Homo sapiens: one gene and its partners. The protein of the gene in region 2 purifies or fractionates together with the protein of the main gene of each other region. This does not show direct contact. Each region holds a gene or a part of one and is shown on either strand. Other genes may lie near its edges.

Region 1 (4,065 bases), on a different chromosome or scaffold from region 2:
GCTCACTGCAACCTCCGCCTCGCGGGTTCAAGCGATTCTCCTGCTTAAGCTTCCCGAGTAACTGGGACTACAGGCGCAAACCACCACGCCCGGCTACTTTTTTTGTATTTTTGGTAGAGACGAGATTTCACCAAGTTGGCCAGGTTGGTCCTGAATTCCTGACTTTATTTATTTATTTTCTGAGACGGAGTCTCGCTCTGCCGCCCAGGCTGGAGTGCAGTGGCGCGATCTCGGCTCACTGCAAGCTCCGCCTCCCAGGTTCACGCCAGTCTCCTGCCTCAGCATCCGGAGTAGCTGGGACTACAGGCGCCCGCCACCACGCCCGGCTAATTTTTTTTTGTGTGTGTGTGTATTTTTAGTAGAGACGGGGTTTTACCGTATTAGCCAGGATGGTCTCATCTCCTGACCTTGTGATCCGCCCGCCTCAGCCTCCCAAAGTGCTGCGATTACAGGCGTGAGCCACCGCACCTGGCCTAGAACTCCTGACTTTAAATGATCCATCCGTTTTGGCCTCCCAAACTGCTGGGATTACAGGCGTGGGCCACCGCGCCCAGTCAATCTCATTTAATCTTAATGCCAGGTACTGTTCTAACACTTTTCTATGTATAATTTATTTCACTTGCAGGTACTATTATTATTCCCATCTATAGGCCAGAAAGCTGAGGTACGAAGTTTAATTACCAGAGTTACTTATCTTCGTTAAAATCCAAGCAGTCTGGGCTACAAACAATTATACCTACTTTGCAGTCAAGGAACCAAGCTGAGATGTTGAGCTGAAAACCCAGGTCTCAGACTTCAAAGCTTTCTACACAAGAGTCGACGGTGGCAGTAAAAATTAATGGGGGCTTGATCTATCCCTCCCACCCCCAAGAAAAGTAAAAAGCAGGAGCTGGGACCAGAGAAAACCTCCACGGAGTCCTTATCCCCTAAATATAAGAGGCATTTAACGTTTAGCATTGCTGACCTGCAATCAGGCTTCAACTGTGAGTAGCCAGGCTCTAAAGCTTGATAACTGAATTCCAAAAAGCGCGCGAGCCTCCAGGCGAAACAGCTTCCCGCCTTCCAGCCGGTTGGAGCCGGCTCAGCAACAGCCTCTCCAAGCCAGGGTAGTGACGTCAGCCCAGGAATTGGGCCCGCCCCGGGATCTCGCTGCTTTCTGCACGCTCGGAATAACCAGAGTCGCGAAATTAGCCCCGCCCACTGCCCCGGAAGTTAATGCGGAAGCCACACACCTCCTCCTCGGCCGGCAGGGGCGCAGCCATTTTAATTCATATTTGAGTGGGCGGTGGCGATTGGTGTTGGCGGTCTGGCTCAGCTGGGCAGGGGGTAACTTTACTGATTTGGGGGTGGTTTTTAGTTTAATTTTTCTTTTCTAGCTTCCCATCGACGGTCAGTGCGCACGTTGTAATCAGCTGAGGCCATGTCAGGAGACGGAGCCACGGAGCAGGTGAGGAAGGAGAGTGGTGGGGCCTCGTGGCGACCTCTTCTCCACGTCTGTTCCTCCGACTGCTCCAGACATGTTCGGCTGAGGAAGGAATTGGGTCTAGTGAACCCGGGGGACAGGGTATATAGAAGAGTGGTGGGAATGGGGAGCAAGATCTAAGATTTAATTTTTTTTTTTTTACTTCTCTCTCTTAGGCATGAATACGAGTAAATACTTGATTTAGACAATAGCGGTAGGCTGCTTCGTCCTATTTAGATTCATGGGACTACTCCAGATGGGATGCTTTCCTTTGATATCGTTTTGGTATTAGAGTGGATAGGAATTATTTTAACGTGCACCCGACGTTTTAGAAAAACTTGACAGTGTTTCTTTTACCCCGCCAAATATACTGTACCCAGAAATAGGTTACTAGTTTGAGAAATATTTGAGACAAAGCTAATCTGGAGAATTAAGACTTAATGAGAGCGAGTGAAGAAAGAAGCAAGTTATGCTGAGGTTTTGGGAATTTTGTGGCTTTCTTTCGTTTTCTTTTCTTTTAGCCACATTTCGTTTTCATTTTTCCAGCTACATAAACATTGCAGGTATAAGTTGAAAATGAGAAGTCTGTTTTGGCCACTGTAAATAAAAGCATCTGTTTTAATAGTAAATATGAGTGACAACTAAATATTTTAAAATTCACACTTTTAGGTTAGATCAGTGTGATTTGTTTCTTTTGCTCTTTGTATTCAGAATTTTGTAGGATAGTATTTACCTTTTAGTGTGAAAGAGGAAGCTAAATAGTTATGAAAAATGCCATTAAATGTGTTTTTCGATCTAAGTCCTGGTGTGTTTAGATAAATACAGTTTCTAAAATGGAGGCTAGGTAGCCTGCAGTCTCAATTTCCTGAAATTTCCCATTGCCATAGCAACGACATGCACTTAGGTTTTCGTTTTTCAGGTTCCCTAGCTTATAACGTGGAAGATGTTATTGGAGGTTGGCAGAGATGAGGCAAAATAGGAGCGTTCTATTGCATAGTCTGTAAGACTGTAGATTTCATTATGTCGGCAGTTTGATTAAATTGTTTTGTGTTTGCCCGAGGACTGGTTTCAGTCCAGAAATCTTCGCACTATTTACATTTTACATAGTGTTAGCATGCCCAAGCATGCAAAGTCTTAAAATTACTGTATCAAAACTGTTTACCCCTTTTCTGATCTAGTATTTGTTATCTGAAAGTGAAGGACTAATGAACTGAGGTTTCATTGAAAGTTTTCGAAATTCATTGTTAATTCTTAGAATTTATCTAAAATTACAAAGACACGGAAATGTTACCATGACCTCTTGAATGTTTTAGAACTGTGGTGTTTCAGTGGGACAGATGGTGGTGAAAATTTATAGAAAAATAATTTCTCCCAAAGGTTTTATTGTGCAAAGTTTAGAACATAGAGAAAAGTTGAAAGAAAAGTGCAGTGAACACCTGTAGGACAACTCTTCGCCTGGAATCAACAGCTGAAAGCCTTGCCATATTTGCTTTATCTCCCCATGCTGATAGATTGAGAACAGAGTCTTTGTCACTCACACTAGAGTGCTGTGACGCCATCACAGCTCACCATAGCTTCGACCTCCCTGCGCTCTGTGATCCTGCCACCTCAGCCTCCTCCGTAGCTGGGAGTACAGGCGCGCGCCACCATGCCCAGCTAATTTTTTTTTTTTTTTTTTTTTTTTTTTTGAGATGGAGCCTTGCTCTGTCGCCCAGACTGGAGTGCAGTGGCGCGATTTCGCCTTACTGCAGCCTCCGCCTCCCGGTTCAAGCGATTCTCCTGCCTCAGCCACCCCAGTAGCTGGGATTACAGGCGCCCACCACCATGCCCCGCTAATTTTTGTATTTTAAGTAGAGACGGGGATTTTGCCACGTTGCCCAGGCTGGTCTCGAACTCCTGACCTCAAGTGATCCGCCTACCTCTGCCTTCCAAAGTGCTGGATTTACAGGCGTGAGCCACCGTACCTGGCCTAATTTTTGTATTTTTTTTGTAGAGACAGGAATTCACCATGTTGCCCAGCCTGGTCTGGAACTCCTGGGCTCAAGCGATTCACCCACCTCAGTGTCCCCAAGTGTTGGGATTACAGACAGGCACGAGCCACCACGCCTGGTCCACGCATGTTTATTTGAAAGTATTTTGACACATTGCAGCCCCAAGTATTTCAGCATTCTCTTATAAATAAGAGCAAAATGTTGTTACATAACCACCATACCATTTCCCCACCCAAGAAAATAGTATTTCTAAAATCTAGTTCTTTAAATTTCCCCATTTGTCCCAAGAATGTGATTTTTTTTTTAACCAGAATCAATCTAGATTTACATATTGAATCATTTACTTCTGTCTCTTAAGTAGTCTCACCATTCTTCTCCCCTGGGGCTGTTGTCTATTCGAAGTGTCAAGGACACTTAACACTGCTTTTCTGGGTGTATTTGTTTTTTGTTGTTTGTTTGCTTGCTTGCTTTTGGTTTGGGGGTTGATGATGTCATTTAACTTGTCCCTTCATCTGTATTTCCTGAAAACTTTACAGTTAGGTCTATACTCAGCCTTGATATTTGGGTTAAGTATTTTTGGATAGAATACTTAACATTATATCATTACATTAG
Region 2 (3,500 bases):
AGATTATAGGTATGAGTCACCACACCTGGCCTGACTTTTCACTATTTAAGCCACTAAAGTAGTTAATGTGATTAATAACCTATGTTGATGGGATTACAGTAAGCCAAGCATTCTCCCTATTGCTTAACCAGGGTAAAAATGGGTATGATAACCTTTACAGAAAGTAATTTGGCATTTTGGCAATTTGTTTTAAGAGTCTTTAAGAAGCTCATAGTTCCTATCATTTGACACAATAATTCAACTTTTAGGAATCGATTTTAACAAAATAATGAGATAAGCACCAAGATTTTGGTACGCACATTAATCCAACAATTACTTTCTGAATACCTGTTCTGTGCTGGGCCCTGGGGTGGAGCCACAGTGAACAAAAAAATAGGGCTCCTATGTGCATGGAAGTTACCATCCATTAGTTTAAAAAAATATTGTGATATTGCTATAGTCAAACTCTAAAAACAACATAATTAACAAATAAGGGAATGTGTATACAAATTATGGTATATCCATAAAATAGAATATTGTAAGAGCATTAAAAACAACTTTTGAAAAAATCCATAATGACATAGGAAATGGTTATGTTAAAAGGTTAAAAGCAAAAAAAAAAAATCATGACGCAAAACCAAATATATATTATCACAAATATGTAAAAATTCAGAGAAAAAAGATGAGAAGGAAATACATTAGGATGATAACACAAGTGATCTCTGTATATTTCTAAAAGTCAGAAATCCCGGGCTCTAGTCTCAACTCTACTGCTTATTACTATCCTAATATTTGACTTTGGGCAAGTCAGTCAAATCTCCTAAGTCTTAATTTTTTAATTTAGAAAATGAGCTGCAATTCTGGATTTGACTCGCTACTAGTATTCAAATTAGATAACGCAAGAGTGAGTCTGTTGTAAGCTGAAAAGCTTTAAACAAATATCACATACTATTATTTTCTTAGCAAAGAAGGATGATTAGACTAGAAACGTTGAACCCCTTTCTCCCACTTTTCCATGTCTCTTCTCTCCTTCAAATTCTAATTTAATACAATGCTAACTTTTGGGGAATTTTCTTGACTTATCCCATTTGCCCCCAATCACTTACTTTGTATCTTTGCCACATTTTTGTGTATCTCATTAATCCATACATTGGCCAAATATATCTCACCAGATGTGTTTCTTTCTCCTTTTTTTTCTTTAAAAAAGTCTGGAATCATTTATGAACTTAGTGTGGGCTGGGCTGGGGCTATTCTGAATCTTTAGAAAATTATATAACCATCATTTCTTCACTCCCATCTTAATCCTTTGCCCAAAGAATAACAGTCAAACTGTCCTAAAATCAACAGATGTCTTCAGGAAAACATTTCATAACCTCTCTGATGTAGGACATTTGCATCTTAAATATTCTTATCATCATTACATTTTAAGTGTAAACCTTTCTTCAGGCAAAGACCACCCACCTGATGCCTTGTGAGGCACTGTTCCCAGCAGAGGGACATTGACGGTTGGATCTGCCATGATGCCTTTATCCAGGGAGCGCAAGGACAGGAATTCATAGAAGTATTCTGCCTACAACCAAAGGCACTGACAGTTAGTAACATGGAAACCAGAGAGGGAGAAGGCACCACAGAATTCATCGTCCATCTGATGGGGCAGAGATAATTTTCATTACAGGAACTCTGGAGCACACAGCATCCAAGATACTGGGTAGGCACAACTCACCCTTCTGTGTTAGACTCTGGAGAGAAGTGATCCCTAAAAACATTAAAAACAGCCACAATAGTTAATCTGTTTTTGTTTGTTTGTTTTTTGAGACAGAGTCTTGCTCTGTTGCCCAGGCTGGAGTGCAGTGGCGCAATCTCAGCTCACTGCAACCTCTGCCTCCCAGGTTCAAGCAATTCTCCTGCCTCAGCCTCCTGAGTAGCTGGGATTACAGGCATGTACCACCACGCCCTGCTAATTTTTGTATTTTTAGTAGAGACAGGGTTTCACCATGTTGCCGGGGTCTGTCTCGAACTTCTGACCTCAAGTCATCTGCCTGCCTTGGCCTCCCAAAGTGCTGGGATTACAGGCTTTAGCTACTATGCCTGCCCAGTAATTTTTTAACTTAAATGATATTAATTGCTGTCTTTTTAAAAGATTGAGAAAAAAAATTCTCTTAGGGAAATAGGTGATGTCAAACCAGTCATTGACTAGAATCCATCTCAGCTATTTTAATCATTCTTTAATACTCCTAATTCTAAATTCTGAAGTGAGTCTTTTGATCAGAATTTGGAGAGTTGTAATGAAGTCCCAAATTCCATGATCTTGCTGTTAACATTTATTTTTTACTCTCATTCCCTTTGAAAGGTTTATATTTAATGTCTCGATTTAATTGTGGAGAGAAAAGCCAAAAGATGCAAAAACCACCATCACAATAAGACAACAAGCCATAAACCTTTACATTGTGAACACTTTCATTTACCCACTAAGTCTAGTTGAGAAAATGATTCCTGCTACTCAAATGGCCATGAATACTGAAAGTAATGATGCATAATCTCACTATAGAGCTTTAATGCTTAATGGATTCCCACTGGATTATTAAAAGGGTTTGTGAAGGCCAGGCACGGTGGCTCACACCTGTAATCCCAGCACTTTGGGAGGCTGAGGTGGGCGGATCACTTGAGGTTAGGAGTTCGAGACCAGTCTGGCCAACATGGCGAAACCCCGTCTCTACTAAAAATACAAAACTTAGCTGGGCATGGTCGTGGGTGCTTGTAGTCCCAGCTACTTGGGAGGCTGAGGCAGGAGAATTGCTTGAACCCAGGAGGTGGAGGCTGCAGTGAGCCAAGATAGCACCATTGCACTCCAGCCTGGGCAACAGAGCAAGACTCCATCTCAAAAAAAAAAAAAAAAAAAAGTGAAAGAGAGGCATTACTAGAGATGCTATAGACATTTAAGCAAGAAAAGGGATCAATGTTACACCAATAAATTCAATGACTTTGATAAAATGAACTCCTTGAGAAACACAAATGAACAAATCTGACAAGAAATAGAAAGTTTGAATAGCCTTATGTCTGTTAAGGAAATTATATTCAAAATTGTAAAACCCTCCCACAAAAAAAATTCCAGGGTCAAATGGCTTCCCTGGTGAATTCTCACAAACATTAAGGAAGAAATAATGCCAACATTACAGAAATTTATAAGCATTGGAGATTGTTATTATTATCATCAATATTGTTTTCATAAGTCTCCTCCCTCAGTTATCAGCTTCCAGCTTGAACCTGGGAGGCAGAGGTTGTCATGAGCTGAGAACATGCCACTGCACTCCAGACTGGGTGACAGAGTGAGACTCTGTCTCAAAAAAAAAAAAAAAAAGCGGAAGGAGAGTTGTGATGGTAACAATATGTTCTTGCTTAGAAATAAAGAACAATCAATAAATAGCACCAATGCTAACATGAGAGTTAGGCAAGTTGAGTGGTTCTGCAGTTACCTGTAGAGACATCCAGAATTACATTAATTTAATGTAATGAATTAAATT
Region 3 (3,500 bases), on a different chromosome or scaffold from region 2:
GATGGACGGGCCACACCCTCTGAGAACCTTGTACCCTCATCTGCTCGTGTGGATAAGCCCCCCAGTGTGCTGCCCTACTTCAATCGTCCTCCTTCGGCCCTTCCCCTGATGGGTCTGCCCCCACCACCAATTCCACCCCCACCACCTCTCTCCTCAAGCTTTGGGGTCCCTCCTCCTCCTCCTGGTATCCACTACCAGCATCTCATGCCCCCACCTCCTCGATTACCTCCTCATCTTGCTGTACCTCCCCCTGGGGCCATCCCACCTGCCCTTCACCTCAATCCAGCCTTCTTCCCCCCACCAAACGCTACAGTGGGGCCTCCACCAGATACTTACATGAAGGCCTCTGCCCCCTATAACCACCATGGCAGGTAAGGACTATTGTTCCTTTCAGATTTGAGCCAGGGTAAATAAGTGTATTAAGCATTTTATTCTCCCTGAGAAAGTGAGCACTGAATCCTTGTTCTTTCCCTTATAGACATTCTGTTATCATAGCATTGACTCCTGGGAAGTAGTACCATGTCCTTTATACCCCTTTTTAAGGTGCTTAATTAAATGCGGGAGCAGGTGTTATGAATGCTACAGATGTCTAGCATTGTTCTGTGTTATGCCAAAATTACCAAAGTGTTGTAGAGTACAGTAAAAATAATAAGGGATGTGAGCAATCAAGGATGGTATTTTCTCTGTACAGCCGAGATTCGGGCCCTCCACCCTCTACAGTGAGTGAAGCCGAATTTGAAGATATCATGAAGCGAAACAGAGCAATTTCCAGCAGTGCCATTTCCAAAGCAGTATCTGGAGCCAGTGCAGGTAACTCAGTGCTTACCTTTGCTGCCTTCTCCTTAACCTTTACTTTTTTTTCCTGATTTTGTCATTTCTACTGGCAAAAGTTCAACAAGATAAAGTTGGAGTACTGTAGATATCAAGAGCGGCATACTTTGAAGAGCAATATGTAACCTGATTTCTTGGCCTTGGGGAAGCTCCGGCAGTATTACTTAGTCTGTATCTAGGCCTGCCCTCATGAAAACCAACTTAATGCCTAGAATATAAATAATTAATACCATCTCGATGTGGTGTTTGCTGTAGAGTGAAATTCCTGCCTTGTGGAAATCTCCATCTCAGTGGTTGATCTTTAGATCTAGTGTCTGTGTAGTAGACCCAATACCAGATATAGACCCTGGGTCTTCTTTAGGAATGATGTTTTGACTGGATAATGTGTTTTTTTGTTTGTTTGTTTTGAGAGGGAGTCTTGCCCTGTCGCCCAGGCTGGAGTGCAGTGGTGCAATCTTGGCTCACTACAGCCTCCACCTCCTGGTTTCAAGCGATTCTCCTGCCTCAGCCTCCCAAGTAGCTGGGATTACAGGCACTTGCCACCACGCCCGGCTAATTTTTGTATTTTTTTGTAGAGACAGGGTTTCATCATATTGGCCAGGATGGTCTTGAACTCCTGACCACAAGTGATCCGCCTGTCTCGGCCTCCCAAAGTGCTAGGATTACAGGTGTGAGCCACCACGTCCAGCCTAGATAATGGTTTGCTATGAAATCTGATTACATTTAGGAGTCTAAGCAGAGCTGGTAGGTAGCCTATCCTAAAAAGAGGCAAGTCTGTAGATGTCATCTTAAGGCATGTTATGCCCTTACAGCTAACTTTTGCCCTGCTCTCATTATTAAGTGGGTAGAACCAGCAGCCATGATTCTGAAAGCCCTGAGCATAAGATCTTTAGTTTCTAAAAGAAGAGGCTACAGGAAGTTTCAGAGTTCTGGTCCGGTTTTCACATCGTGACATTAGCCATATTCACTTCCTTCCTGTGAGTTTCCTACATGAATGTAAATGTCTGTAGATTATCAGATCTCCTAAGAAATAAGTTAGCCCTAAATATTATCATCTGCTTTCCATCAGTTTTCATCTTTGCATCATCTTGCCAAACTTGAATCCACAGAGAAGGTTAAAGACAGAAAGTACATATGTTCCCTTCATTTTTTTCCCACCAGAAAAATCTACATTGACATCTAAATTAGTCTTTTTTAGGCCAGGTGCAGTGGCTCATGCCTGTAGTCCCAGCACTTTGGGAGGCCAAGGCCGGTAAATCACTTGAGGTCAGGAGTTTGAGACCAGCATGGCAAAACCCCATCTCTACTAATAATACAAAAATAAGCCAGGCATGGTGGCACATGCCTATAGACCCAGCTACTTGGGAGGCTGAGGCACGAGAATTGAGAATTGCTTGAACCCAGGGCGTGGAGGTTGTGGTGAGCCGAGATTGTGCCACTGCACTCCAGCCTGGGTAACAGAGTGAAACTGTGTCTCAAAAAAAAAAAAAAAAAAATTAGTCTTTTTAAATTAAAAAGTAATATATACCCATGGGTTATATGGGTTAAATACACAGAACAGTATAAAGAAAGTACTCATTGTTCCTTCTTCCTCATCAACCCTTTCACACTAAGATGATCAATAACTGAATCTTGATCTCCTGTTGTTCTCATTCCAGTCATTCAAACCACAAATACTTATTGAAGATACTACAAAAACAGGCAAAAATTCCCTGCCAGGATGGAGCTGATGTCTTCATATTCTTGTGCCTCCACTGGACAGTTTCTCCATAGTTTCTGTTCTTGTTGCCTTGCACAGAGGAAGCTGCCAGGCTTCATTTTCACTGGACCCCTGCCTGAATTCATATTTTCTTTGTATTAACTTTTGTCCTTAATGCTCTTGACTTAGCTTGGAAAAGCAAAGTGTAGGTACCCGCCCCATGACCACTATCCCTGAGCCAGGCATTACTCAGAGTTGGGAAATGAAAGGCCTAGTTTTTTATGACAGCATAAATTTTTTTTTTTTTTTTTTGAGACGAAGTCTGGCTCTATTGCCCAAGCTGGAGTAGTGCAGTGGTCTGATCCCGACTCACTGCAACCTCTCCCTCCCAGATTTAAGCAATTCTCCTGCCTCAGCCCCCCAAATAACTGGCATTACAGGTGCATGCCACACTGCCTAGCTAGTTTTTGTATTTTTAGTAGAGACCGGGTTTCACCATTTTGGCCAGGCTGGTCTCGAACTCTGGCTTCAAGTGATCCGCCCACCTCGGCCTCCCAAAGTGCTGGGATTACAAGTGTGAGCCACTGCATCCAGCCATAATTTTTTTAATGTATACATATACTACGCATACATGTTTTATGTAAATATCATATATATACACACATACATCTGATGGTAGGTTAAAAATAACTTGTAGAAATACACATTATTTAGAAAGTCTCATGAGGTACAGTGGCTCATACCTATAATCCCAGCACTTTAGGAGGCCCAGGCAGGAGGATCACTTGAGGCCAGGAATTCAAGACCAGCCTGGTCAACATAGTGAGACCCCATCTCTACAAAAAATTTTTGAAAAATAAGCCAGGTGAAGTGGCATGCAGGAGGATGGCTTGAGCCCAGGAGTTCAAGGATGCAGTGAGCTATGATCATACCACTGCTCTTCAGCCTGGATGATAAAACAAGACCCATC
Region 4 (4,250 bases), on a different chromosome or scaffold from region 2:
AGAGATGGGGTTTCACTGTGTTAGCCAGAATGGTCTCGATATCCTGACCTCATGATCCACCCACCTCAGCTTCCCAAAGCGCTGGGATTACAGGCATGAGCCACCGCGCCAGGCCTAATTTTTGTATTTTTTTGGTAGAGATGGGGTTTCACCATGTTGGCCAGGCTGGTCTTGAACTCATGACCTCAAGTGATCCGCTCGCCTCAGCCCCCCAAAGTGCTAGGATTACAGGTTTGAGCCATCAGGCCTGGCGTTGTTTGTTTGTTTGTTTGTTTGTTTGTTTTGGGAGATGGAGTCTCCGTCGCCCAGGATGGAGTGCAATGATGCCGTTTTGGCTCATTGCAGCCTCTACCTCGTGGGCTGAAATCATCCTCCCACCTCAGCCTCCCGAGTAGCTGGGACTACAGGTGCATGCCGCCATGCCCAGCTAATTTTTGTATTTTTTGTTGAGACGAGGTTTTCCTGTGTTGCCCAGGCTGGTCTCAAAATCCTGAGCTCATGTGATTTGACCACCTCAGCCTCTCAGAGTGCTGGAATTACAGATCTGAGCTACAGCACCCAGCTTGAATTATTTTAATTTTTGATGCTATTGTAAATAGTATTTTAAAATCTCAACTTCCAGTTGTTCATTGCTAATACTTGTAAACACAGTTGACTTTTATATGTTGAGTTTATATCTTGTTACCTTGCTAAATTCACTTTTTTTTTTTTTTTTTTTTTTTTTGAGACGGAGTCTCACTCTGTCGCCCAGGCCGGACTGCGGACTGCAGTGGCGCAATCTCGGCTCACTGCAAGCTCCGCTTCCCGGGTTCACGCCATTCTCCTGCCTCAGCCTCCCGAGTAGCTGGGACTACAGGCGCCCGCCACCGCGCCCGGCTAATTTTTTGTATTTTTAGTAGAGACGGGGTTTCACCTTGTTAGCCAGGATGGTCTCGATCTCCTGACCTCATGATCCACCCGCCTCGGCCTCCCAAAGTGCTGGGATTACAGGCGTGAGCCACCGCGCCCGGCCGCTAAATTCACTTTTTAGTTCAAGTAGATTTTTTTTACAGATTTCTTAGAATGTTCTTCATAAACAATCATTCTGTCTACAAATACATTGTTACTTCTTCCTTTTCAATCTGTAAACTTTTTATTTCTTTTTCTTGCATTTTTGTACTGGCTAACACCACTACTATAATGTTGAATGAAAGTGGTGGACGTCCTTGCCTTATTCCCAACTGGGAGAAAACATTTGGTGGGTCACCACTTAGTATGATGTTTCTTACAGTGATCTCCTAGGTGCCTTTTATCAAGATGAGGAATTTCTCTCTATTTCTAGATTACTAAGTGTTTCATTGTTTATTATTTCTTTTTTTTTTTTTTTTTTTTGAGACAGAGTTTTGCTCTTGTTGCCCAGGCTGGAGTGCAATGGCGAGATCTTGGCTCACCGCAACCTCTGCCTACCAGGTTCAAGCGATTCTCCTGCCTCTGCCTCCCGAATAGCTGGGATTACAGGCATGTGCCACCACACCCGGCTAATTTTGTTTTTTTAGTAGAGACTAAAACGTTGGCCAGGCTGGTCTCAAGCTCCCGACCTCAGGTGATCCACACGCCTCGACCTCCCAAAGTGCTGGGATTACAGGCCTGAGCCACCGTGCCCATCCTGTTATTACCATTAATGGATATTGGATTTTGTTAAATGCTTTTTCTGCATCTATTGAGATGTTCATAGTTTTTCCTTTTTATTCTGTTAATATGGCGAGTTACTTCTATTAATTTTCAAATATAAACAAATCTTGCATTCCTGGAGTGAACCCTACTTCATTATGATGTATTACCATTTTTATATGCTGTCGGATTCAGTTTTCTAAAATTTTGTTAAGAATATTTGCACCAGGTGTGGTGGCTAATGCCTGTAATCCCAGCACTTTGGGAAGCCAAGGCAGGCGGATCACTTAAGGCTGGAAGTTTGAGACCAGCCTGGCCAACATGGCAAAACCCTGTCTCTACTAAAATTACAAAAATTGGCCGGGCGCGGTGGCTCATGCCTGTAATCCCAGCACTTTGGGAGGCCGAGGTGGGTGAATCACAAGGTCAGAAGTTCGAGACCAGTGTGGCCAACATAGTGAAACCCCGTCTCTACTAAAAATACAAAAAATTAGCTGGATGTGGTGGTGTGCGCCTATAATCCCAGCTACTGGGGAGGCTGAGGCAGGAGAATCCCGTGAACCCAGGAAGTGAAGGTTTCAGTTAGCCAAGATCGTACCATCGCACTCCAGCCCAGGCGACAGTGCGAGACTCCATCTCAAAAAAAAAAAAAATACAAAAATTAGTCAGACATGGTGGCGGGCACCTATAATCCCAGCTACTCAGGAGGCTGAGGCAGAGAATTGCTTGAACCTGGGAGGCAGAGGTTGCAGTAAGCTGAGATCACACCACTGCACTCCAGCCTGGGCAACAGATTGAGACTCTGTCATAAATAAATAAACAAACAAACAAACAAAAATTAGCGGGCATGGTGGTGTGTGCCTGTAATCCCAGCTACTTGGGAGGCTGAGGTGGAAGAATCACTTGAATCCAGAAGGTGGAGGTTGCAGTGAGCTGAGATTGTGCCACTGCTCTCTAGCCTCAGTGACAGAGCAAGACTCCATCCGCCCCCGCCAAAAAAAGAATATTTGCATCTATGTTCATGAGGGATAGTATTCTGTAGCTGCTTTTCTTCTAACATCTTTGTCTGGTTTTGGTATCCCAATTAGATTTAATTAGCTCTCGTATTTCCTAAGTCATATTTCTAGAGTTAAATAGTTTTTGTTTTTCATAACATGATTTTTTCATTGGCTTGTCCTTATCAGACCAGAGCAGGGTATCAATCTTCCAAAATTCAGGCTGCTATGGTAGGGAGAAGCAGAGATCCTTTTGAATAGTAACAGTAATGTCAAGTGTTACATACTCCATACTCCTCTGCCAAAATATATCATGCATGAGCCTGTTTAGTCTTTATGATATTATAAAGTAGATAATAATCATCATTGAATAGAACAGGAAGCAGACCATGACAGGCTAAGCATCTTGCCCAGCCTACAAGATTGTGAATCTAATATAAGTGGCATACCAAAGATTAATACCAAGTCTCTAACTTCATCTTTCCGTGATGTTGTAATGACTAGTGTGGGCAGAGCCCATCTGACCTGTGACAGATAAGCTGACGTGAGTCTTGCATTTGAGGGTTCTGTAAAATCCTGAGGCATATGACTATTAAATGTGAAACCATCAAGTGTTTATTCTTCTATTTTATATGTGAAACTTGGGCATATACTTAATTATCCTATGCCACAGAAAGATTCCTATTGCGATTCACTTAAATGATCTTCTGTAGGGTAGCATTTAAGTCAATTAGAAAGATGAAAATTAAATGTCTTCAACGTATATACACACACGTTGTGTATGATTATAATTTTTTCTTTTTTTTTTTCTAGCAATGAAGCTTGGAGATACATGGGTGGCTTTGCAAAGAGTGTTTCCTTTTCTGATGTATTCTTTAAAGGATTCAAATGGGGATTTGCTGCATTTGTGGTAGCTGTAGGAGCTGAATATTACCTGGAGTCCCTGAATAAAGATAAGAAGCATCACTGAAGATAATACCTGGAAGCATCATAGTGGTTTCTTAACTCTCCAAAATAAGATTTCTTCTCTGTAGCCTACTTGTCTGGTTTATCCCTTACAGAATATTAGTAAGATTTAATCAATTAAAATATATATATATGCCAATCTGCTTTTGTCATTCTTAAAAAAAAAAAAGTGTCTCAAGCCATATCAGATTTGGTTTAGAATACATAGGGGGTTGGAGAACAGCAGTAGTGCGTTCTGCATATAGCAGGCAGGCATCATATATTTGGCTGAGCAAATGGGCATGTTCTAAGAAGTTTTTTTTTAATCTTTTTCTTTTTTTTTTTTTAACTAGTCCTGACCTAGCTGGCACTAACAAGTATTTAAATGGGAGTTGGCCTTGCTGTTTTTTTTTTGAGATGGAGTCTCGCTCTGTCACCCAGGCTGGAGTACAGTGGCGTGATCTCGGCTCACTGCAAGCTCTGCCTCCCGGGTTCACACCATTCTTCTGCCTCAGCCTCTCAAGTAGCTGGGACTACAGGCGCCCGCCACCATGCCCAGCTAATTTTGTTTTTGTATTTTCAGTAGAGACAGGGTTTCACCGTGTTAGTCAGGATGGTCTCGATCTCCTGACCTTGTGATCCACCCGCCTCAGCCTCCCA
Region 5 (4,101 bases), on a different chromosome or scaffold from region 2:
GATTCCATCCTCCGTATCTCACTTGTACCAGAAAGCCCTTCTTCTCTCAGGCTTTCTTAGCTCAGTAAATGGCATGCCATCTACTCAGCCAAAAAACTAGGAGTGATCTTTGATTCCTCCCTTTCTCTCACCTCTGCATAAAATCCGTCAGGTACGTTTAGCTCTACCTCCAAAATACATGCCAGATCTAATCCATTTATCTCTCTCAGCACAGATACCAACCTAGACAAGCCATGATCATCATTCTACTTTGACTAACCTGTTTCCACTCTTAGCTTTTCTATGGTCCATTCTCCAAATAGCCAGTGTAATCCTTTATGAAACATCCACGCATTCATTCACCAAAGTGCACAGAAACTGGGGATACATAACGAAGCAAAGTATATCCCTGTGCTCAGGGACTTACATTCCAGAAGAGGGAGAGGCAATAAGCAGTAAATAATTTCGTACAGATGTAATAAATATAAAAAATTAAATGTGATAAACTAAATCATGTTCTTCTCTCCATAAAAATTTTCAAATAGTTTCCCAAGGTGGAAGTCCAAATTCCTTACTATGACCTTGTTACAAGATTCTGTGAGATCTGGCTTCTGTTTGTCCCTCCAACCTTATCTGTACTACTCTATCAGACTGCAACTTGGCTCTAGTCGCACCGGCATTCTTTCTATTCCCTCAAGGTTCCAATTTTTTTCCCTTCAGCCACGTGTTTCCCCTATCTGGAATGCTGTTCCCAGATCTTGGACAGGTTGCTTCCTCTTAGCTCAAGTTTTCACTTCAACAGAGTGAATTTCACTAAGTCAGCTCCCTCATCATTTTCTCTATCAATTACACCTTTTTGTTTTATAGCACTTATTACTTTACAGAGATTTTGCTTATTTATTTGTTAACAATATCTGTTGTCCCTACTAAAATGTAAGCTTCGTAAGAAGAGGAATCTTAAGATGTTGTTTACTATAGTATCCCTCAAAGTCTAGAACAGTGCCCAACATAAGAGGATACTGATAAATATTTTTTAAAAGAATTTACACACGCCTGTAGTCCCAGCAGTTTGGGAGACCGAGATGGGAGGATCACTTGAGCCCAGGAGTTCGAGGCTGCGATTGCGCCACTGCGCTCCAGCCTGGGCGACAGAGAGAGACCTTGTTTCAAAAAAAAAAAAAAAAGATAAATAATGACGGAGTACACGATAATAAAATAGCCTCGTTTCTCACCCAGCCAGGCTCCGCCTACAGGAGCCAATTATGCTCACGCCCTCTTCCGACGCTGCCCGGGGCCTGGGAAGTAGTCTGCGCAGGCGCCGTAGAACTGTGGCGCTTTCTGGGTAAAGATGGACGTCCACGATCTCTTTCGCCGGCTCGGCGCGGGGGCCAAATTCGACACGAGACGCTTCTCGGCAGACGCAGCTCGATTCCAGGTACTGTGCCCAAGGGACCGAGGGCCGAGTAACTGAGAAGGAGCAGGAGCCCGGGAATGAACCCGCTGCTGGGGGAGGCCGGCGCACTTGGACACCCGTGGCCTGGCTCTCGCCACCCTTGGGGTATTTTGCTTCCTTTTGTGTTCGGCTTGCCTGCACGGCTGCTCGGTTCAAGCCTTTTGAATAAGCTCTTTAACTATCCTGTTGTAGACCTAGTTGGGCCTGGCACGGAAACCCTCTTTCCTCCCTCTTATTCAAAGCAAAGTTGGAATCCTCCTTTCAAAAGGAACTTTTTCTCCGAACCTAGAGGAAAGGAATTTCGAAAACAGAAACAACCAAAGATGGAGAAAACAGATTCTCTTACTATAGTCTCCCCAAGTTTGGCTTGGCATGCGTATAGTTGTACTGGGCGTGATTCTTTTTATTGCTTCAACCCCATGGCTTAAGTAACCAATGAGAAGAGCGATTAAGAAATGGGGGCTCTTACCTAGAGAAGTAGTGAGTGATACATCGGGGGAGGTCAATTGGGGCCCAATTCTGGAAAATCTTGAATGTCTACTTTGTTGTTTGGATGTGTATATGCGTGTGACATGTGTTTCTTCTTTCTCTAACTGGTGAGTATGAACTCTGGAGCCAGATTATCTGGGTCTAAATGCTAAGTCTGCCAGTTACTCATTTTTAGACCTACCTCAAGTTACTTAATTTCCGAATGCCTTGGTTTTCTCATTCGTAATACTGCTATTTACCTTATAGAGTTGTAAATGTGAAGCAATTTAATATGTATAAACATGCTTAGAAATCTGCTTGACATTTAGTAAGCATATATGTGTTCATTGCTAATATTAATTTGTTACTATTATGAGGTCAGAGAAGGTCTCTTCAGATTCCATTTGTCCAGACACCTGTTAGCTCGACAGATACTTGGTGAAAGGGTAGAAAAGATGAGGAGTCATTGAACAGTCTTGCTTGAATGAAAGCAATGGTATTCTGTCAGTAGGTTTCATTTTACATTTTTTGGGTTTTAGATAGGAAAAAGGAAATATGACTTTGATTCTTCGGAGGTGCTTCAGGGACTGGACTTTTTTGGAAACAAGAAGTCTGTCCCAGGTGTGTGTGGAGCATCACAAACACATCAGAAGCCCCAAAATGGAGAGAAAAAAGAAGAGAGCCTAACTGAAAGGAAGAGGGAGCAGAGCAAGAAAAAAAGGAAGACGATGACTTCAGGTTAGTGTTTGATTTCTGTCATGTTTTTTCTCTTTAATTTTTTTCAGTTATAAAAATAATACAGGCTTATGGCTACAAGTCAGACAATAAGGTCATTTGTCAGCTGATGGCACTCAGGTTGTTTCCAGGTATTTGTCATTAGAAATATTGTTACAGCAAAGGTAATTTTAAGTAAAGATATTTATACATAAATCCTTTTGTACAGGTACTGTTATTTCTGCAGAATACCATCCGAAAAGTAGCATCATATGGTGAAAGGGTATGTACCCTTTCTCTGAAAAATACTACAAAGTGACTTCCCAAGTCCTTGTCAGTGCTGAATATTATTGGTGTTAATTTTTTTGCCAAGCTAATGAATGAAACTTTTTTTTTTTGAGACAGAGTCTCACTCTGTCTCCAGGCTGGAGTGCAGTGGCGCGATCTCGGCTCACTGCAACCTCTGCCTCCTGGGTTCAAGCAATTCTCCTGCCTCAGCCTCCTGAGTAGCTGGGACTACAGGTGCGTGTCACCACGCCTAGCTAATTTTTGTATTTTTAGTAGAGATGGGGTTTCACCATGTTGGCCACGATGGCCTGGATCACTTGACCTCGTGATCCGCCCGCTTTGGCCCCCCAAAGTGCCGGGATTACAGGCCTGAACCACCGCGCCCTGCCTGAAACAATTTTATATTTTACTGATAACTGGTGAGGTCGAGCATTTTTTTTTTTTTGAGATGAGTCTCGCTTTGTTGCCCAGTCTGTGGTGCAGTGGTGCAATCTCGGCTCACTGCAAGCTCCGCCTCCTGGGTTCACGTCATTCTCCTGCCTCAGCCTCCCAAGTACCTGGGACTACAGGTGCCTGCCACCACACCTGGCTAATTTTTTGTATTTTTAGTAGAGACCAGGTTTCATCGTGTTAGCCAGGATGGTCTCGATCTCCTGACCTTGTGATCCACCCTCCTCCGCCTCCGCCTCCGCCTCCTAAAGTGCTGGGATTACAGGCGTGAGCCACCACACCTGGCTGGTCAAGCATATTTTTGTATGCTTTACTGGACATTAATATTTCACCTTTTGTGAATTGTTTCTTCTTACTCTTTGCCCATTTTGACAGAGGTTTTTGTTTTTTTGTTGTTTGTTTGTTTGCTTTTGAGACAGAGTCTCGCTCTGTTGCCCAGGCTGGAGTGCAATGGCATGTTTTCCGCTCACTGCAACCTCTGCCTCCCAGGTTCAAGTGATTCTTCTGCCTCAGGCTCCTGAGTAGCTGGGACAGGTGTGCCCCACCACGCCTGGCTAATTTTTGTATTTTTTAGTAGAGACGGGGTTTCTCCATGTTGGTCATGCTGGTCTTGAACTCCTGACCTCGTGATCTGCCCGCCTCGACCTCCCAAAGTGCTGGGATTAAAGGTGTGAGCCACCGCGCCTGGCCTTTTTTTTTTTTTTTTTTCTTGTACTGTACTCTAGGGCTGTTTATATTTTTTTAATCTA
Region 6 (3,500 bases), on a different chromosome or scaffold from region 2:
CGCAATAATTAGGAGGCGGGCGGATCACGAGATCAGGAGATCAAGACCATCCTGGCCAACATGGTGAAACCCTGTCTCTACTAAAAATACAAAAATTATAGCTGGGCGTGGTGGCAGACGCTTGTAATCCCAGCTACTTGGGAGGCTGAGGCAGGAGAGTTGCTTGAACCTGGGAGGCAGAGGTTGCAGTGAGCTGAGATCATGCCACTGCACTCTAGCCTGGTGACAGAGCGAGACTCCATCTCAAAAACAAACAAACAACAACAACAACAACAAAAAACAACAAAACCCAATTACTTTGGTAGGAGAATAAAAGAAGACAGACTGAAGATAGGTGGGTTGGGTAGCTGGTACAGTAATCAAGATCTAAAGTGAAAAAGGGCTGTATTTGGGAAGTGGAATATTCTCCTCCTTGATAGCAGTTTTTACAACCTACTTTAATTTTGCTTATTTATCTGTCCTTTACTAGACTTTAAGATCTTTTAATATAGGAGGCTATTTTGATGACCTACGTCTTAGTTATTAAGAAGTTTTAGGCTGGGTTTGGGAGCTTATGCCTGTAATCCCCGCACTTTGGGAGGCCAAGGCAGGTGTATTGCTTGGGCTCAGGAGTTTGAGACCATCTTGGGCAACATGGCGAGATCCCATCTCTACCAAAAATAGAAAAAAATAGCTGGCATGCTGGTGTGTGCCTGTAGTCGCAGCTACTCAGGAGGCTGAGGTGGGAGTATCACTTGAGTGCAGGGAGTGGAGGTTGCAGTGAGCAAAGACCACACCACGACACTCCAGACTGGGTGACAGAGCAATACCTGTCTCAAAAAAAGGGAAAGAAGTTTTAATAATTACGGTTAAATGAATGAATGTTTTTATTTTATATGTGGCTGAGTTTTAGAAACTTTGTATTACACTAAGGGTTGTCCTAAGAATCTTGTTAGTTCAAGAAAATAAAATCTTCATGACTTTACATAACTGGATTCCATGAAGACCCATTCCTTCTTTTTCCTTTTACTATTAATAATATAGTAACTGTTTACATATATATATATTGACTTTGTGCCAGCCAGTGAGCACTTTATATATGTTATCCCATTTAGTTGTCAGTAGTATGATTTGCTGCATAGACTATTTGTTTACATTTTAGTAATGAGGAAACTTAATGAGACTGATTTGTCCAAGGTTACAGAGCTGATAAGGTAGGCAAGACCTAATTTTCTCTGGCTGCAAAAGCTGTGCTCTTTTCCACTGTATTAAACTGCTTTATATCTTTGAAATCAATCTCCCCCTCCCCTTCCCCTTCTTTTTAAGCTTGTAGTTTTATAAATGGCTGTGGTTCTCCAAGTTTTTTGGGAGGTCGTTTGGAATAGTAATTTTTGACTTGTAGGTTGTACCCTTAACTAAATTCTTTAGGTTGGCACGTTTATGGCCTTCTTCAGAGGTCAGACAAGAAGTATGATGAAGCCATTAAGTGTTACAGAAATGCACTAAAATGGGATAAAGACAATCTTCAAATCTTAAGGGACCTTTCCTTACTACAGATTCAAATGCGAGATCTTGAGGGTTACAGGGTAAGTAAAATAGAGACTTTTTTTTTTAATTCTAAGGGGAAAATATGTACAACTTTGAGTACTTTCAGATACATAAATTTTTTATTTCATTTTGAAAATAATTTAATTGAATTTTTTTTTCCTCCTACCACAGTGGTTATGTTTATGATTGGAATAATCAGATCTTTAAAAATAAATTATTTTATGGTGAGGCAGATTTGGCCTACTGTGTAGGGTTGACTTAATTTGATAAAAATTAACATCAGGCCAGGTGCGGTGGCTCACGCCTGTAGTCCCAGCACTTTGGGAGGCCCAGGTGGGTGAATCATGAGGTCAGGAGATCGAGACCATCCTGCCTAACACAGTGAAACCCCATCTCTACTAAAAATACAAAAAATTAGCTAGGCGTGGTGGCAGGTGCCTGTAGTCTAGCTACTCAGGAGGCTGAGGCAGGAGAATGGCCTGAACCCGGGAGGTGGAGCTTGCAGTGAGCCAAGATCACGCCACTGCACTCCGGCCTGGGTAACAGAGCGAAACTCTGTCTCAAAAAAAAAAAAAAAAAAAAAAAAAAGAAAATCAGTACTCCTCAAATAAACAATGCCTTTGTCTAGTATTGACATGTAACTCTAACATTTACTTCCCACATTTTTCTGGAAAGCAAAACAAAAAAAAAATTTTTTTTTTCTTGGAGACATTAGAGTCTCACTCTGTTGCCCAGGCTGGAGTGCAGTGGCATGATCTTGGCTCACTGCAGCTTCCACCTCCTGGGTTCAAGCAGTTCTCATGCCTCAGCCTCCTGAGTAGCTGGGGCTACAGACATGTGCCACCATGCCCAGCTCATTTTTTATATTCTAATAGAGATGAGGTTTCACCATGTTGCTCAGGCTGGTCTTGAACTCCTGAGCTCAGGCAGTCCACCCCACCTTATTCTCCCAAAGTGCTAGGATTACGGGCATGAGCTGCTGCACCTGGCAAAAACAAATGTTTTGTTTCTTCTTTCTACCTCCACTGACTCTAATATATTTTTGTAGCTTCGATTTTAACCCTTAAATTAGTGTTAGATCTATTTAGTTCCTCTTTCATATTCTTTCCTCTTTATGTATGTTAACTCTGTAGTTGGACACTTAATTTTTAAAAACATTTTTGAATATTTTTCCTTTGTGCTGTTCTTTCCATCCTGCCTCTTTTCTGGGACTGAGCAGATCAAGAAATAAAGAAGGGTCTTAAGTTTGGTCTTAAGTTTTAAAAACTTAAATCTGGTCTTAAGTTTTAAAAAAATTCTAAGATTAGCTTGGAGGCTTCATTATGTTCTTAACAAATATTTCTTTGCCTCCATAAAGCTACACAATATGGATGTTTGAAGTATTTTCTATTATTGTTCCCATCATTGTGTTGTAAAATGCTTGGGGTTGTGGGATAAATTAATGTGTGTTTTTTTTTTTTTTTTTTGAGACGGCGTCTTGCTCTGTTGCCAGGCTGCAACCTCTGCCTCCCGGGTTCAAGTGATTCTCCCGCCTCAGCCTCCTGAGTAGCTGGGACCACAGGCGTGCACCACCATGCCCAGTTAATTTTTGTATTTTTGATAGAGACGGGGTTTCACCATGTTGGCCAGGATGGTCTCGATCTCTTGACCTCGTGATCCACCCGCCTTAGCCTCCCAAAGTGCTGGGATTACAGGCGTGAGCCACTGCGCCTGGCCTAATATGGAGATCTTTTAAAGGAGCACTTGCTGTTACTAAAAGCCTAAGAAAAAGTGTTTATTTTTTTCCTTTTAAAGGAAACGAGGTATCAGTTACTTCAGCTTCGACCTGCGCAGAGAGCATCATGGATTGGTTATGCTATTGCTTACCATTTATTAGAAGATTATGAAATGGCAGCAAAGATTTTAGAAGAATTTAGGAAAACACAACAGGTAATAACTAGAAGCCATTTTACTAAGTCTGATCCTAAGTATAA
Region 7 (3,500 bases), on a different chromosome or scaffold from region 2:
CCGGGGGGTTCAGCCGCAGCTGGAGCCGGAGCGCCCCCTGAAGGCCAGGCACAGCGGGTGCCAGCTGAGCCCAGTCACCGAAGGTGGGGCAGGTGATGGTGAGTATGGGCGGCTGCACAGGTGGGGGCGTGGTGGCCAGGATGTCCCGGATCTGTATGGAGGAGGAGTGGTAAGGGACCACCTAGAGCCAGGCAACACCTAGCCCGGTGGGAAAACTGGGCGAGGACACCCTCATCCTTTCCCCCAGGGCCTGCTCCTCAGGGCCCTCCCGCCAAAACCCAACCCTCTCCAGCGCCACAAGGCTCTTTGATCTGGCCTCACCTCCTGTCTCTCCCTCCCCTTCAAATGCCTCCCTGCCCCAGGGCCTTTACACTCACCATTCTCTCCTCCCAGGGCACAGCTCCCTCCAAGGAGACTCTCCACGCCCCACCTGTCTACTGAACCTTTTCTCACCATTTTTAAGTGCCCCACTACAATGTGAAAGTGAGGTTTGCCATTTTGCCCATGTGTCCTACCCAGACTGCGGGCACCAGGAAGGACCCATTTGGCTCCATCCCTCATCAGGACTTTGGGACATCTGCTGACCTACAAACTCAGCTCACACCACACCCTTTCGCGGGCAATGGGACTGACCCCAGACAGCCAGGAGGCATGTGTCACCACTGCCATCCTACAGAGGATGGGGAGACCAGGCCATGGAAAACAGCAGGTCGCTGGTGCCACACAGCCTGATACACCCCAGTCAGGATTCAGAGCTGGGGAAGCAGGGGATGGCAAAGGGGTGGCTTACCTCTCTGTCCTTCAGGACCTGGAGGAAGTGGTGAGGCGAGAAGCCCCCTGTCTGTAGCAGCAGCTCCCCCGTCTCCTCCAGGCAGGGCCCAGCCAACACCAGTAGCTTGTGAGAGGCAGGGTCCAACAGAAGGTTCCGGAGCTGAGGGAGGGGGTGAACACTAAAGGACCCGTTCTGTGCAGTGACGTATCCAGCAGTCCTCTTTGGGGTAGCCTCGAGTCGATACATAACCACCCCTCTCCTGTCCTCACCCCACGACCAGCCCAGTGCTCAACTAGCTACGAAGGCAGTCTCCAGGTCTCCTGCTGGGCCCTGGAGCAACCCTAGCAAACTCCTATTCATCCTACAAAGCCCAGCTCTGATGTCCCTTCCTCCTGAAGGCACTACTTGCCCTTTCTGGGCTCTCTCTAGTCCACCTCTCCCTCCAGCCCAGCCCTGATGCCACAGGGCTGGGGGTGTCTGTGTCTCACTCTGTCTCTTAAAGACTGAGAGCCCCTCAAGGGAACAAAAGGGAAAAGTTGATCCAAGGAATCAACCTGTAAGAAGGTCTGTAGTGGGATGCCCCAGGGCTCTGTCTGGTTCATCTTCCGGATGTATAATTGGTAGAGTACAGATGGCCACAAGCTGGTTAATGTTAGTGAGTCGATTCAGACAACTCCTGGGGCCTAGCCGGAGGGAACCCACAGGAGGAAAACCTGTCTGCTCTGGCCTTCCCACCTCCAGACCCACGCTGTCCTGGGCCCTGAGCTGGGAGTGCTTACCCTCCCCTCCCTCCCAAAGTCCAGGCTTTTCTGCTCCCACCCCAGAGGAGGGAAGAAGCGGAGGCTGAAGCCACAGGGAAGGCTTCGTGGGCGAAGAAGTGTGGTGCCGGGTGTCTTGAGAGGATCTGGGGCAGCATGAAGACAAGGACACGAGACAGGAAGACAGAGAAGGCACGGGTCCCAGCAGCCCGCCCCCTCCAGGACGTCAGCCATTCCCTACCTCATCATACAGGGACTTGTCTGATGGGTTCAGGAGGACCAGGGTCTCCAGGTTGTCTCCACGGTGGTGCAGGCTCCGCTGGCCTGTGGGGGAATCAGGCCGTCCCGGAGTCAAATCCTGCCTCCCCGTGTGACCCTCAGGGAACATGAACCCCTCTGGGAACCCACCCAGGGATCATATGGAGATTAACAGGCGCACGGCAGAGCTGCAGGTCAGGACCAGGCAAGAAAGAGAAACTCAAACCACCCCAGCTGGCCTAAGAGAGGCAGTAACCAGAGGGCCCCATCGTGCGCAGGGCCTGGTTTGCAGCTGTCACCCCTGGGAGTGATGCCACCATTTTCTTCTTTTTTTTGTGAGACGGAGTCTCGCTCTGTCGCCCAGGCTGGAGGGCAGTGGTGCAATCTCTGCTCACTGCAAGCTCCGCTCCTCCTCCCGGGTTCACGCCATTCTCCTGCCTCAGCCTCCCGAGTAGCCAGGACTACAGGTGCCCGCCACCACACCCGGCTAAGTTTTTGTATTTTTAGTAGAGACAGGGTTTCACCGTGTAAGCCAGGATAGTCTCCATATCCTGACCTCGTGATCCGCCTGCCTCGGCCTCCCAAAGTGCTGGGATTACAGGCGTGAGCCACCGCGCCCGGCCTTTTTCTTTTCTTTTTTTTTGAGACGGAGTTTTGCTCTTGTTGCCCAGGCTGGCGTGCAACAGTGCAACCTGGGCTCACTGCAACCTCCGCCTCCTGGGTTCAAGCAATTCTCCTGCCTCAGCCTCCCGAGTAGCTGGGATTACAGGCACACGCCACCACGCCCCATTAATTTTTTCAATTTTTAGTAGAGACGGGGTTTTAACATGTGGGTCAGGCTGGTCTCAAACTCCTGACCTCAGGTGATCCGCCTGCCTCGGCCTCCCAAAGTGCTGGGATTACAGACTTGACCCACTGCACCCATCCGGCCACATTTATTTTTCAGACAGAGAGCCAGAGCTCGAGGAGGGCCAATGAGGGCGAACGTGGACGAGGGTACATCCGGAGCAAAGGTCCTGAGGCAGGACTCAGCTAGGGGTGGGGCAGCATAAGGGCCGGGGCTGAAGTAGGGCTGTTTCTGGGATCCTGACCCTGCTCTGTCCCCCAGGGCCCGTATGTGTTTTAAACATCAGTACTGTGAGAGGGGGGTGGCAAGGAGCCAGAGCCGGGGTGGGGGCCGGTGAGGGCCAACCCGGACCAGGGTACAGCACCAGCCAAGGCCCCTGAGGCAGGACTGAACTGTGAACAAGGCTGAGTCTTGAGAGGCAGAGACCCTCCAGTGTTGCCAGCCCTTATCACATTTAACTTTCTTTCCTTTCTTTCCTTCTTTTCCCTTTCTCTCTCTCTCGCCCTTATCACATTTAGCTTTCTCTTTCCTTTCTCTCTCTCTCTCCCTCCCTCTCCCCCTCCCTCCCTCCCTCCCTCTCTCTCTCTCTCTTTTTTGAGATGGAATCTCCCTCTATTGCCCAGGCTGAAGTGTAGTGGCACGATCTCAGCTCACTGCAACCTCTGCCTCCTGAGTTCAAGCAATTCTCCAACCTCAGTCTCCCAAGTAGCTGGGGTTATAGGCGCTTGCCACCACAACCAGCTAATTTTTGTATTTTTAGTAGAGATGGGGTGTCACCATACTGGTCAGGCTGGTCTCGAACTCCTGACCTCAGGTGATCCACCCACCTCAGCCTTCCAAAGTGCTGGGATTATAGGTGTGAGCC

What was found.
Region 1: the proteins of WIF1 (region 2) and CSTF3 purify together in Homo sapiens (affinity purification with mass spectrometry; one large-scale study listed by BioGRID and IntAct). This does not show direct contact.
Region 3: the proteins of WIF1 (region 2) and CPSF7 purify together in Homo sapiens (affinity purification with mass spectrometry; one large-scale study listed by BioGRID and IntAct). This does not show direct contact.
Region 4: the proteins of WIF1 (region 2) and NDUFB3 purify together in Homo sapiens (affinity purification with mass spectrometry; one large-scale study listed by BioGRID and IntAct). This does not show direct contact.
Region 5: the proteins of WIF1 (region 2) and DDX52 purify together in Homo sapiens (affinity purification with mass spectrometry; one large-scale study listed by BioGRID and IntAct). This does not show direct contact.
Region 6: the proteins of WIF1 (region 2) and NAA15 purify together in Homo sapiens (affinity purification with mass spectrometry; one large-scale study listed by BioGRID and IntAct). This does not show direct contact.
Region 7: the proteins of WIF1 (region 2) and MAP1S purify together in Homo sapiens (affinity purification with mass spectrometry; one large-scale study listed by BioGRID and IntAct). This does not show direct contact.

The regions. Positions count from the first base shown.
Region 1 is NC_000011.10:33,158,681-33,162,745, reverse strand, and holds the start of CSTF3 (cleavage stimulation factor subunit 3), read left to right. Parts: upstream 1-1,265; 5' UTR 1,266-1,420; coding exon 1,421-1,447; intron 1,448-4,065. UniProt on the Homo sapiens protein: One of the multiple factors required for polyadenylation and 3'-end cleavage of mammalian pre-mRNAs.
Region 2 is NC_000012.12:65,076,306-65,079,805, forward strand, and holds part of WIF1 (wnt inhibitory factor 1 precursor), read right to left. Parts: intron 1,550-3,500; coding exon 1,441-1,549; intron 1-1,440. UniProt on the Homo sapiens protein: Binds to WNT proteins and inhibits their activities. May be involved in mesoderm segmentation.
Region 3 is NC_000011.10:61,412,976-61,416,475, reverse strand, and holds part of CPSF7 (cleavage and polyadenylation specificity factor subunit 7), read left to right. Parts: coding exon 1-371; intron 372-691; coding exon 692-810; intron 811-3,500.
Region 4 is NC_000002.12:201,082,001-201,086,250, forward strand, and holds the end of NDUFB3 (NADH dehydrogenase [ubiquinone] 1 beta subcomplex subunit 3), read left to right. Parts: intron 1-3,458; coding exon 3,459-3,615; 3' UTR 3,616-3,750; downstream 3,751-4,250. UniProt on the Homo sapiens protein: Accessory subunit of the mitochondrial membrane respiratory chain NADH dehydrogenase (Complex I), that is believed not to be involved in catalysis. Complex I functions in the transfer of electrons from NADH to the respiratory chain.
Region 5 is NC_000017.11:37,640,647-37,644,747, reverse strand, and holds the start of DDX52 (probable ATP-dependent RNA helicase DDX52), read left to right. Parts: upstream 1-1,301; 5' UTR 1,302-1,327; coding exon 1,328-1,414; exon of another isoform or gene 1,415-1,810; intron 1,811-2,439; coding exon 2,440-2,638; intron 2,639-4,101.
Region 6 is NC_000004.12:139,339,505-139,343,004, forward strand, and holds part of NAA15 (N-alpha-acetyltransferase 15, NatA auxiliary subunit), read left to right. Parts: intron 1-1,407; coding exon 1,408-1,565; intron 1,566-3,321; coding exon 3,322-3,456; intron 3,457-3,500. UniProt on the Homo sapiens protein: Auxillary subunit of N-terminal acetyltransferase complexes which display alpha (N-terminal) acetyltransferase (NAT) activity. The NAT activity may be important for vascular, hematopoietic and neuronal growth and development.
Region 7 is NC_000019.10:17,722,480-17,725,979, reverse strand, and holds part of MAP1S (microtubule-associated protein 1S), read right to left. Parts: intron 1,855-3,500; coding exon 1,772-1,854; intron 932-1,771; coding exon 791-931; intron 152-790; coding exon 1-151. UniProt on the Homo sapiens protein: Microtubule-associated protein that mediates aggregation of mitochondria resulting in cell death and genomic destruction (MAGD). Plays a role in anchoring the microtubule organizing center to the centrosomes. Binds to DNA. Plays a role in apoptosis.